Regions from separate parts of the Homo sapiens genome. Here region 2 is linked to region 1. A link means that fine-mapping ties the variant in region 1 to the expression of a gene that starts in the linked region. Tissue or cell type: whole blood. Region 1 holds a variant in brackets; the other region holds the start of a gene. Each region is shown on its reference strand, or each on the opposite one.

Evidence for each region.
Region 2: CDHR1 starts here. The variant in region 1 is fine-mapped to the expression of CDHR1 in whole blood (TOPMed, PIP 0.96).

What each region holds. Positions count from the first base shown.
Region 1 is chr2:111,046,802-111,052,284 of GRCh38, forward strand. It overlaps ACOXL (acyl-CoA oxidase like), which reads left to right. Exons shown (of 18, transcript NM_001142807.4): 16 at 2,417-2,487. It overlaps LOC124907866 (a long non-coding RNA gene), which reads right to left and starts at 3,376. Exons shown (of 2, transcript XR_007087182.1): 1 at 3,260-3,376. RefSeq lists an enhancer at 3,051-3,345 and a silencer at 3,051-3,345. The variant G/A (reference allele first, on the strand shown) is at 3,299.
Region 2 is chr10:84,191,841-84,197,099 of GRCh38, forward strand. It overlaps CDHR1 (cadherin related family member 1), which reads left to right and starts at 2,697. Exons shown (of 17, transcript NM_033100.4): 1 at 2,697-2,975; 2 at 3,654-3,749; 3 at 4,665-4,810. The coding sequence starts at 2,921. RefSeq lists silencers at 2,593-2,722, 2,793-2,912.

The DNA of each region.
Region 1 (5,483 bases):
GTGCATGGCCCAAGATGGAACCCTGCATGAATGAGAGTCAGGAGCCATCAGGGTGGTTTGCACGGGGAAGAGGGGCTAGGCCTGGTGTGGTGAGGAGGAATGCAGGCCATAGGCATAGGGCTCCAGCAGGGCCAGGCTCAGAGTGGTGGCAGCAGTGGGCATGGAGGCTGGGAAAGAGCGAGAAGTTCTCCAGAAATCAAAGTGGCAGCACTACTGTGGGAAAGTGGTGCATCCAAGGGACATCATCGTACAAGAGTCAGCAGGCATGGGGTCCTGAGGGAGAAATCAAAGAATCAGGCTCAGTGGCCTGGTGGCTGGAGGATGATAGTCCCACAGAAATGGGAAAAAGTTGGAAAGGGCTGGCTTGGTATGGAAGTTGACTGGTTTGGATTGGATGTACAGAGTTCAAGGTAACTTGAAGTGGGTGCTATGTCTATGATAACGAAAAGTATCATAGTGGAGTCCAGTGCACAGGCAGTGAGAAGTATGAACACAGGGTCACCACAGAGAGGAGAGAGCTGTCAGTGAGAATCCAGTAGCTCTCTAAGGAAGCAAGTGTTTCAATTTCCCTGACCTGCACTAAGTAAGATTCTAAGTTACAGCATAAACCTTTACCAAATAAAATAGCCACCTTAAAAAGGTGATCTAAAGAAAACCTAGCACCTGAATTTGTAGATTATTCTTTAGCCATCCTCAGACAGTAGTCAGAGATCAATATGTTATCACACCAAATCAGATCACAGCAAAAGTCCAAAACTGAGGACGGAGTTGAGGGAGAGAGGTCTTGCCTCCAGGGTCTTTCCCAGGCAGGTGTATTCTGAATGAGTGACAGCAAAAGCATTCGTGTAAACTTAACACAGCTTGGGCCCTTATCTCAATGTACAAGTTTCTGCTGAGCCACTTTTATAGGCAAAGTTAATTTTTAAAAAAGATTAAATTGATGATTCTATGTAATTAACACTGGTTTCTGCCAATTGAAGACTGGGTGGGTATATGCATTGGAGAGCATGTGGAAGGCAACATTGATCTCTCTATGGATCCCAAGTATGTCTTGACTGGATAGAGCAAAATTTAAACTTGGAAGAAATAATCAGCACCAGATACAACTGATAGCAGTCAAGATGGCATGGAGTAATTTAGTCAGAGATGAAAGCAGTCTAAGGAATTCTATTTTAGAGTAACATTGAAAACTACAAACAACCTACCCAGACAATATTTTCTTGATGAAAATTCATCATTGCTGATATAGTTCTCTTTAAAATATCTGTATTTGTAGACATGACATCCAGGCATGCTTGAGGTCAAATCATTGGAATCAGACTGTCCCTCAGCCTTGAGGCTGAGTTTAGCTCTGCCCACCTTTGTGGGATCTGCGGGAGTTGGGATGGGACCAGAGGGCAATCAATGTCTTTATTGGCTGGATGGGTGGGCTTGGGATGTTCAGTTGGAGGACTGAGTTTTGCTCTACTCAAAGACAAGAGGCAGAACTCTTCCCAGCAGAGAGCAATGAAAGGTCATAGAGGGTAAAGAGTGAACGCAGCTTTGAGTATAGCAATCAAAGGCTAAACTAGTTGGGTTAACTTAGTAAAAGCCTTAATGCGTGTCAAATAAGTGGTTTTAAATCTGAGGGTGGCAGAGAATTGTGGGAGCATTTTCAAGCATGAAACAATGTAGTCAACACAGCCTACAGGAGGGCAGTCTGTGACTTACACCAAAATAAAAATTGGTCACCACATAAGTGAGCCTTTGATGAGAACCTGGCCATAAATATGAGAAGGGGAATGTAATTTTGTAAATTTTCTAGATTAATATTCCTAGAGCTTTCATGGCCAATTTCAATGGATTACTAAAACTTTTTTTTTTTCTCGTAAATCTTCTTGGGTTTCTCTTCCCTATTCTCCTTGAGAAGGTTGGTTGGAGAAAGACGACTTTATATATTTGGGGGAGTTTGTGGGGTTTGAGTCAACACTTGGGGCCATACACCAAGAGAAGAGTTAAAGCCATGGAAATCATGATGGAAGATTGAGATTTTTTAAATTAGCACTGTCAAATTTACAAAGGCAGGTGGAGTCTTCTCAATGAAGGTCCCAGGAAATGGAGATAGAGTGTCATCTCTGGGGACAAGATGACCCAAAAGGAAGCTGAACCCAGGACCTCCTGGCAGTTTAGGGAGGAGCTTTGCTGATGGGAATGGCCTTGTACTCTACTGTAATGACTCTGTCTGATGGGGTGGAGAAGTCACTGTACGGGGGCCCCTGACCCATGCAGGGGACAGTTGGGGAGCTCTGCCATGTCACCAAGGAAGGACGGACAGCATGCTGTTTACGTCTGTTATAACCACAGTGTCCTCCTTCACATCAGAAGGGCTCTGAGGCGGAAGTGAAGTCATTCACAATTTCCATTTCTTCCCTTCCAGTTACCTTAGAGCAGTTCTCCCTAGCAGTGAAGAGCTGTCCTGACCAAGAGGACCAGACTTTGTTAATGAAGGTAGGTTATCAGATAAAGAACTTATTTCCTAAAGGCTCAGAGCGTTTTTATTGCCCTGAGGAGAGTTTCATTTTTACAAGCGGGAGTAAATTTATCATGTCTGAATCGTGTGCTCCAGGGGGATAAGCTTGTCATAGGCGAATTGGAGGGTTGCTGGTTAACGAGCACCACTGCTGCCTGCGGAGTGCGGGAAAGTGACAGGAGAGTGGGTGTCCACATGAGTGGGGAATCTGTTTAACTCTCCAGAGGGCTCAGTTGGTTCTATTTAAACTTATCTGATGGAGTCTTGATGCTTTTTTAGCAGATTTATGAGGCTTGGCCAAATTCCACATCTCCCACTATATTTTTAATTAAGACAAAGGATTCCATACGTTCCCAGTCTGCTGCTTCCTACTTTTGGCACCTTAAGGAATGCTACACAAATTAGACTGTTCATATTCACCACCAGAATGAGCATCTTATGTCATAGATTCCTTGCCCTTGAGTGGAAGACAAGCTTCTTCCCCCCAACCCCCCGCCCCAAGGAACAGTTGTTTTATTTCCTTCCAAGTGACAGGAGCAGAGGCATTTCCAAATGGTATAACCTGCACTTAGGCTGCCTACCTAGGTGAGCCAAAAGTGTGGAAAACCCTGGCAAGCTGCCCACCTGGATTTAATTAAAACTTTGTCTTTGAAGCAGAGAGCAGTAAACAGCAGCAGATCACAAAGGTGCACACACATACTTTCCCACCACTAAGACTCATGCTTTCACACAGAAACCTTGCAGACTGACCTTGAGGTACAAATATTTCCATGATGTCACTTCAGTGCT[G/A]TACCACCAGGAAACCGCGTGCACCAGGAATTGCATTTCTTTATCTAAAAACCAGCTTCTTTACCAGGTGTCCTCTGACTTTAGAAATGGGTGGAAAAAAAATAGGGTGTCACTCTGAGGGATTTTCAACTCATTTGCCTAAGATGTGATATTTTTGGTCTTTAAAAAAAAAAAAGCTTTCAGTGATGTTAGTTTTATAATAAAGAAGCGCTGCTCATACCAAGTGTTGGGTTTGTCTGGGAACCCTGATTTTTCAGAGTCCTGGGCGTCTGATACACTGACTTAGAATGATATAGATTCAGGCACATGGGCGTTTCTTGTTTGCCACGCTTAATTCTCTGTTTCCTGCTTTAAGTTCTATTCTGCAAGGACCTTTCCTTCCAGGTGCAGGCTGGCTTTCCATGACCTTGAAGCAGCTCTTGGGCCCTGGATGCTCACCTCTTTTCTCTGCTCACCGGCCTTTGGTCTTTCTTCCCTCTATCCTGTGTTTTCTCCTACCATTTGCTTCTTGCTTCTCTCTTGTTCTTCTCCTACTGTCCATCTCTCCCCATTTGCAGGAGGTGAAGCTCCTGGGCTCCCCTGGAGGTTACATGGGCATCTCAGAGGCATTTTGGGGTACAGAGGGCAGCGACAGAGCCCAGCCCCAGAGACCACACCTCCAGGCCTGCTTCTAGTGGTCCTCATGGCCTCCCCGACTTGGGATGCCGCAGCCCCCTCTGAGTTTCTTCACATCTAGAGTGAGAGGTGAAAAGAGATGTAACCAAAGGCCCCTCCTCCTCTCACCATTTCACCTTCTTGCTGACTTTCATGGTGCTCTGGCTGGCTTCTCTAGCACATTCGGTTAGAAACTAACAGATTGGGGTTGGGAGAGGAAGGCTAAGATGGCCTGAGGTTTCCTGGAATTTGCGTGACCTCCAGTGGCGTTCAGTATTTTGTGTCTTACCTGTTGGTTTCTGCAGACTGTGTGGCCTCAGCAACAGAGGATGATTTATGTGGGCGTTTTCTCAATATTTGCAAATATTTGAACAGGCATCATCAAAGAAAGAAGTTTCACTGAACAAAAACGTGTGCCGAGTTCATATATACTGAAACTATTTTATGATTTTTTTTAGGAGATTGAGGTTTTCTAATGTCACATATCAGAAGGCACCATGTGGGTGTGACAATGGTATGCTGGGTTTTTGTAGATGTTATGTGAGAAAACCTATTCAGGGTGACAGTAGATTATTTTGACTACAGTCAGCCTGCAGGTGATTGTATGTTTGCTCTAGTGAGCTATCCACTTTGCAGACTGTCTGAAATAAATTCCCACATTTAACTTAACCTCATGAAAACTTGTTGGAGGCAAAAAACGTAGATCTGGGCCAAATATGATATATATTTTTTTGAGACAGAGTCTTCTTCTGTCACCCAGGCTGGAGTGCAGTGGCGTGATCTTAGCTCACTGCAACTTCCACCTCCTGGGTTCAAGGAATTCTCCTGTCTCAGCCTCCCCACTAGTTGGGAGTACAGGTGTCTGCCACCATGCCTGGCTAATTTTTTGTATTTTTAGTAGAGATGGGGTTTCACCATATTGGTCAGGCTGGTCTTGAACTCCTGACCTCAGGTGATCCACCCGCCTCGGCCTCCCAAAGTGCTGGGATTACAGACATACGCCACTGCGCCCAGCTGATATTTTTTAAAATTATATTTTGCATGCATTCCTGCATTGTCAAACATTCCAATGTTGCATTCTACATTGTCAAGGGTAATTGAGATCTGAGCACAAATATTTAAAGGGGTACCATTAAAAATGCAGCTTGTATGGCAGGCATGGTCCATGATTGTCCCAGGCAGCCTAATTTTGACTCAAGTCAAAAGCCCCTCCCTCAATCACATAGCTCCACCTTGCCTAACCTGAGAAGATGCTCTATAGACAGACTGCCAAGAAGATGCAAGAGATGAACTTGGTTCATCAGATGGCTGAACCAAGGTCAGATTCCCCTGCAAAGACAAAAACATTGAGATTTTGAAGATGGCATAAGCCAGAACATTCATCTGACAACCAGGAAAAGCAGGAGGGACAGGAAAACAAGTGACTAGCCACCATTGCATAGCTAGTCAGCCGGCAATAGAACTAGGACCAGAAAGCTGGGCTTCTTCCTGCGGGGCCCACTCAGATGAGCAAATTCATAGAAAATTCCAC
Region 2 (5,259 bases), not on the chromosome of region 1:
CTCTGTAAGTGAGGGTCAGGTCCCATGTCTCATGGCAGATGAGTCCTACTGAGCCTTGACAAGCCAAGACCTTCCATACTGCAAGGTCAAGATCAGGGTCCATGGTGAGAACCACCATAAAGAGCTGCTGTTTTCCCAGGTCCTTAGGTGATTTGAGGACAGGGTTGTATCTAGGGTGACCGCCAAATACCAGGTTACCTTAGGCTTTGCTGGTTTTAGCATTGAAAGTCCTGCATCCCTGGAAACCCCTCAGTCCCAGGCAAATTTGGGCAGCTGGTTACACTAGCAGATCTGAACCTAAAACAGCTGAAGGAAGCAGCAGGAGTTGGAGTGGGGGGTGTGGAGGGTCTTTCTCAGACCCTTCTACATCAGAATAGAAGTCAGATGTAATGGTGCTGCCTGTATTCTCAGCTGCTCAGGAGGCTGAGGCAGGAGAGTCTTTTGATCCCTAGAGTTCAGGGCCAGCCTGGGCAACATAATAACACCCTATCTCTAAAAAGAAAGAAGAAGAAAATACAAAGTAAAATACAAAACTGGGGCTCTGGAAGGAATGTGTGATGTGTGAGTGAGAGGCCTAGAAGCTGAAGCTTCAGTAGATTCAAGATCATCTTCTTCTGCCATGAAAAGGGTTTGAACCAGGCGGGCACAGTGGCTCATGCCTGTAATCCCAGCACTTTGGGAGGCCAAGATGGGTGGATCACCTGAGGTCAGGAGTTCAAGACTAGCCTGGCCAACATGGTGAAACCCCGTCTCTACCAAAAAAAAAAAAAAGAAAAAAAATTTGCTGGGCATGGTGGCGTGCACCTGTAATGCCAATATTTGAAAGGCTGAGGCAGGAGAATCACTTGAACCTAGGAGACAGAGGTTGCAGTGAGCTGAGATCCGCCATTGCACTCCAGCCTGGGTGACCGAGTGAGACTCCAGCTCAAAAAAAAAAAGAGTTTGAACCTTCTTTGGAGCCAACCCAAACTGTATGTGAATCCAAGCTCTGCACCTCAGAGAGAATAAGTCACTTGCTTGGTCGTACACAGCCAATGAGGAAATCTCCCTCCTCTGCAAAGCAGAGAAAATCACATTGGGAGAGCAGTGCAGGTCAAATAAGATAATATGGGCAAATATACATAAGCACACATACAGCACATGGCATGTAGGCTACTCCTTCCCCTTCCCTCTCCAGTGCATGGCTGTTGACTGAGGGAACTGAGGAGAGAGAAATCAACGGCCCTAGATTGGTGAGGAGCAGGGCTAACAGGACCCAGGGAGAGCTGGCTTTTCTCGGCCCACCAAGACATCTACTCCAGGAAACCTTGGCTCTGCCTCTGGCTCCTGGGAAATCCACGGCAAGACTCAGTCTCCACATCCCTATATGGGACTTGCAGAATACTTGCCTTAGCTTTGTCCCAGCACTTTGGGAGGCAGATTCAGAACATCTGTGCAATTTAAAGTGTGTCTTTTCAGCAAAAGAGCCAAGCCTAAGGAGACTCAACAAGGGTTTCGGCCAATTAGGCCTGAAAACTGCTGCACATTCTAAAACCATTGATTCATCTTCCTTCTTCTCTGCAAATCCCTGACCCTTGCTCACAGTAGATCATGTAGGGCTAGACCAAGGGATGGGGGGTGCTCTGTTCCCTCAAAGGCCCCTGGCAGGGGGAGGGGGGGAATGCTGAGTCCTCAGCTGTGGAGACCTCTCCCAGGAGCACACAGAGGAGGGATCTCCTCTATCTGAGAACACATCCACCCAAGGGCATCCTGGGAAGTGGCCTGGCTTGGGCTTGAAGTGACCTGTACCCCCATAAATGGCCCAACCAGGAAAAGGAAAACAGGCTGCATTTCCAAGCACCCTCCAGTGTCAGAGCAGGAGAACGAGGAAGCCCAAGGAGCTTTACCAGCAGCCAAAAAGGTTCCTGGGCTTACCTGTGTCTTCAAGTTATCAGCATCCAGGACCCCAATAGCAGTGCCTTGCTTTGTGTAAATACCCTCTAGGAATGAGATCTCGTGCCTCTCGGGCAGTTCAGATCTATCTTGGCCAGCTCTGTGCAAGTCTGTCCTAAGATGGGGCTTAACTCTGCCTTCAGGCCCTTCACTCTTCCTTGGAAGGTTTGAAGAGTGGGTCAGCTGCCCCTTCATGGTCCCAGACTGGGCACTGACTGGGAATGGGGAGCAGAACTGCCTCTCACCCTGGTGGACACCTGAGGGTCCTCCCTGCTGCCCACCACACAGATCAGACCCTTTGGGAGAGGTGGTCCAGCCTGGGGAACAGGGCAGGAATGGGTTGAGATCACAGAGAGGGGGTCCTGATAACCCCTTACCATCTGCTGCCCATCCATCACCCTTTCTCTTTGCCTTTGGTCTCACGCGGCTTATAGAACCTGCTTAGACTGCTAAGGCAAGGCCCTCTCGGCCGCTCCACTAACTTTTCTTCTGGAATGCTTAGCTCAGAGAAGACAGCTAAGCCCCTGAAAGTCACAGAGGAAGTTGATGAGAAAAGAAAACTGCGAAGCCCAAGCCCCACCAGGACTTAAGTACCCTGGGAAAGCCTCAGGACAACTTGGGGGAAAGACACTCCTGTCCCCCATGGTGTCCTCCTGTCCAGGACTGGGGGCCGCCGGCAAAGGGGGCGTGGCGGGCGGGGAGTCCTCTTGTCACGCCCTCCTGCCCCCGCCCGCGGCTGGGAGCCTGTCGCTCCGCTCTGCGCCGCTAATTGGTCTCGTCAGGCGGCCGGCAGGAGCAGATCCGAGCCGTGTCATCCTCTTAGCGCCCTCACGCCACCCGCCGCTCCCGCCCCGTGCCCCCTCCCGCCGCGGCTGCAGTCGCCGCTACCCCCATTGTGGTCTCTGCCCTCCCCGCGGGCCCAGGGCATGCTCCGTGCCCCTGCGCCCGGTCTCGGCGGCGGCAGGCGACACTCCGCGCCGGCGGAGACATGAGGCGCTGCCGGTGGGCCGCCCTGGCCCTGGGGCTGCTGCGCCTCTGCTTGGGTGAGTGGCCGCTGGGCCGCGCTGGCCGCGTGGATGGCGAGGGAGATGGGCGCTGGCGTCACCCAGGTGGCCAGAGGGACATGGTCCTGGACCACTTCCAGAGTGGGACTCGGGCTGGTGGACGGGAGCGGAGAAGTCCTTCCATCTTCCTGGCCCATTCGGTAGTGGGGAGTGGGGTAGCGGAGTAGTGGGGAGCTCCGGGGCGCTTCTCCAGAGCTGGCATCCTAGGGCCCCAGGGTTTGGCGCCCGGACCCCCGCTGCTCTCCGCTTGCTGGGAACCAGAGCTGTAGGCTTGGTGGCAGCTCCGATGCTGCGTGGGGCAGGAGATAGTGCCCTGACTCGCGGCTTGACCTTGGCTGGGCTGGGGCACTGCCCCTCTCCGAGCGCGGGTGCAATCTGCCCATTGATGAAGGAGGGGTTGGATTGCTACCTGGGTTCTAAGCGCCCACATGCTACGTGTCCCTGACAAGCCCGAGCCCACCGGGGGCGGAGTGGGGGTCAGGGGCATCCTCTGGGCGGCGCCCCAGTGGGGTCCCTCGGTGCACTTGGGTTGGGGAGGCGGAGCGCCCTCCTGCCCAGTAGCTGGGCCTGACGCGGGACCGCGCTGGTGCGAAGCTCCCTCCTGGTGTCTGGGTGTCCTTTGCCTGGGTGTCCGTCTGTTCTGTGTTCTTTTTCCAGCTCAGGCCAACTTCGCCCCGCACTTCTTCGACAACGGGGTCGGCAGCACCAACGGAAACATGGCTCTGTTCAGCCTCCCAGAGGACACCCCTGTAGGTGAGTAGCCCTGGCACCTGCTCCCGATAGGTCTCCCTGAGGGGTGCAGGCAGACTTAGAACACAAAGTGCCCCAGGCACCACCCAAGTTGCTGCGCGCGCCCGGGGGCTCCTTGTTTGCTCTCCGAATTCCCCTGGGCAATGGCAGGAAAGAAGGTCATTGCTGCCATGGCGACTTAAGTCTGGCCAGTCCTGGAGACCAGGGCTCCCCCCCACAGACAGGGTCGCCCCGCGAGGCAGGCAGCTACAGCTGCCCCTTATGGCTGTGTGACCTTGAACAAATGTATTTACCTCCCTGAGCCCCAGGTCTCTAGGCTTTAAAACGGCCTAAGAACATCCAACTTGCTGAGATATGCAGAGAGAGGGGAGGAGAAAGGGGAGATTTCACACTCCTTCTCCCTCACTTTGTGGGTAGTGGGAACCCGGGGAAAAGGGAGAGCAGAGCAAAGTAGGCACCTGGCTCAGAAATCCCTGCAGAACCAGGTCCAGGCATCGGGGACAGTGGTGCACTGTGGGTCACCCCTCCTGCCTTAATGGCTGCTCCCATTTCCCCTTCCCTGTACCCAGGAGCCCCTCAATCTTGGATCCTGAGAGAGGAGTTATTACCAGGCTGAGCAGAACATAGGCACTACAGTTAGGCACGGCAGACCTGCACCTGCTCTGTAACCCGTGTTATAGATTACAATCTGGAAAGTGGCTGATCATCACAACCACCCGCTGTGAAGAATAAACATACAAAGAGGGAAGCAGCCAGCAGGGGTGAGGCCAGCAATGAGCACCAAGTTCAGGGCAGTACCTTTGGCACTGAGTTGAATAGTCACTTTATAAACAGCTGAATCGTTGGTCCTGAGCATCTGCCACTTTTAGGAAAAGTTGGGTCTCAGATTCTATGTCTCTCCACTGTGTTTCCTTCCAGGCTCTCACGTATACACCCTGAATGGGACAGACCCTGAGGGAGACCCCATCTCCTACCACATCAGCTTTGACCCCAGCACTAGAAGCGTCTTTTCTGTTGACCCCACTTTTGGAAACATCACCCTGGTTGAAGAGCTGGACAGAGAGGTATGGGGAGGTGTGGGGAGTGCTGCGGGGCCACTGCCTGTAGACAGACCTCGGTGGGCTGAAGTTCCCCTGGAGCACATTGGTTAGAACCTCTCCACAGAGTAGGGGATGAGGGGGCACACCCCAGGCACATCCACTCTGTGAGATCTCTGGGCCACTTCCCATCAGCAGAGTGGGCTTTACTTTCATGCTCCTCCTTCACACAGAGCGAAGAGTGGGCTCCTTTAACGAGCACCTGCCAGCCCTGCTAATCTTTTAAGCATGTTCCATTAAAAATAAATCCGTTTGCACTTTGAGGTTTCTGAAAGAAACCTCACAAAGTGATTTTTCAAGCCTGTCCTGGGAGAGGCACAGGAACTCAGAGCAGGTCAAGGCTGGAAAGGGTGGTTGGCAGTGAGTCTGAGTTTGGCAGAGCTCCTCCACTCTACACACTTGAGAACTTGCAGGCA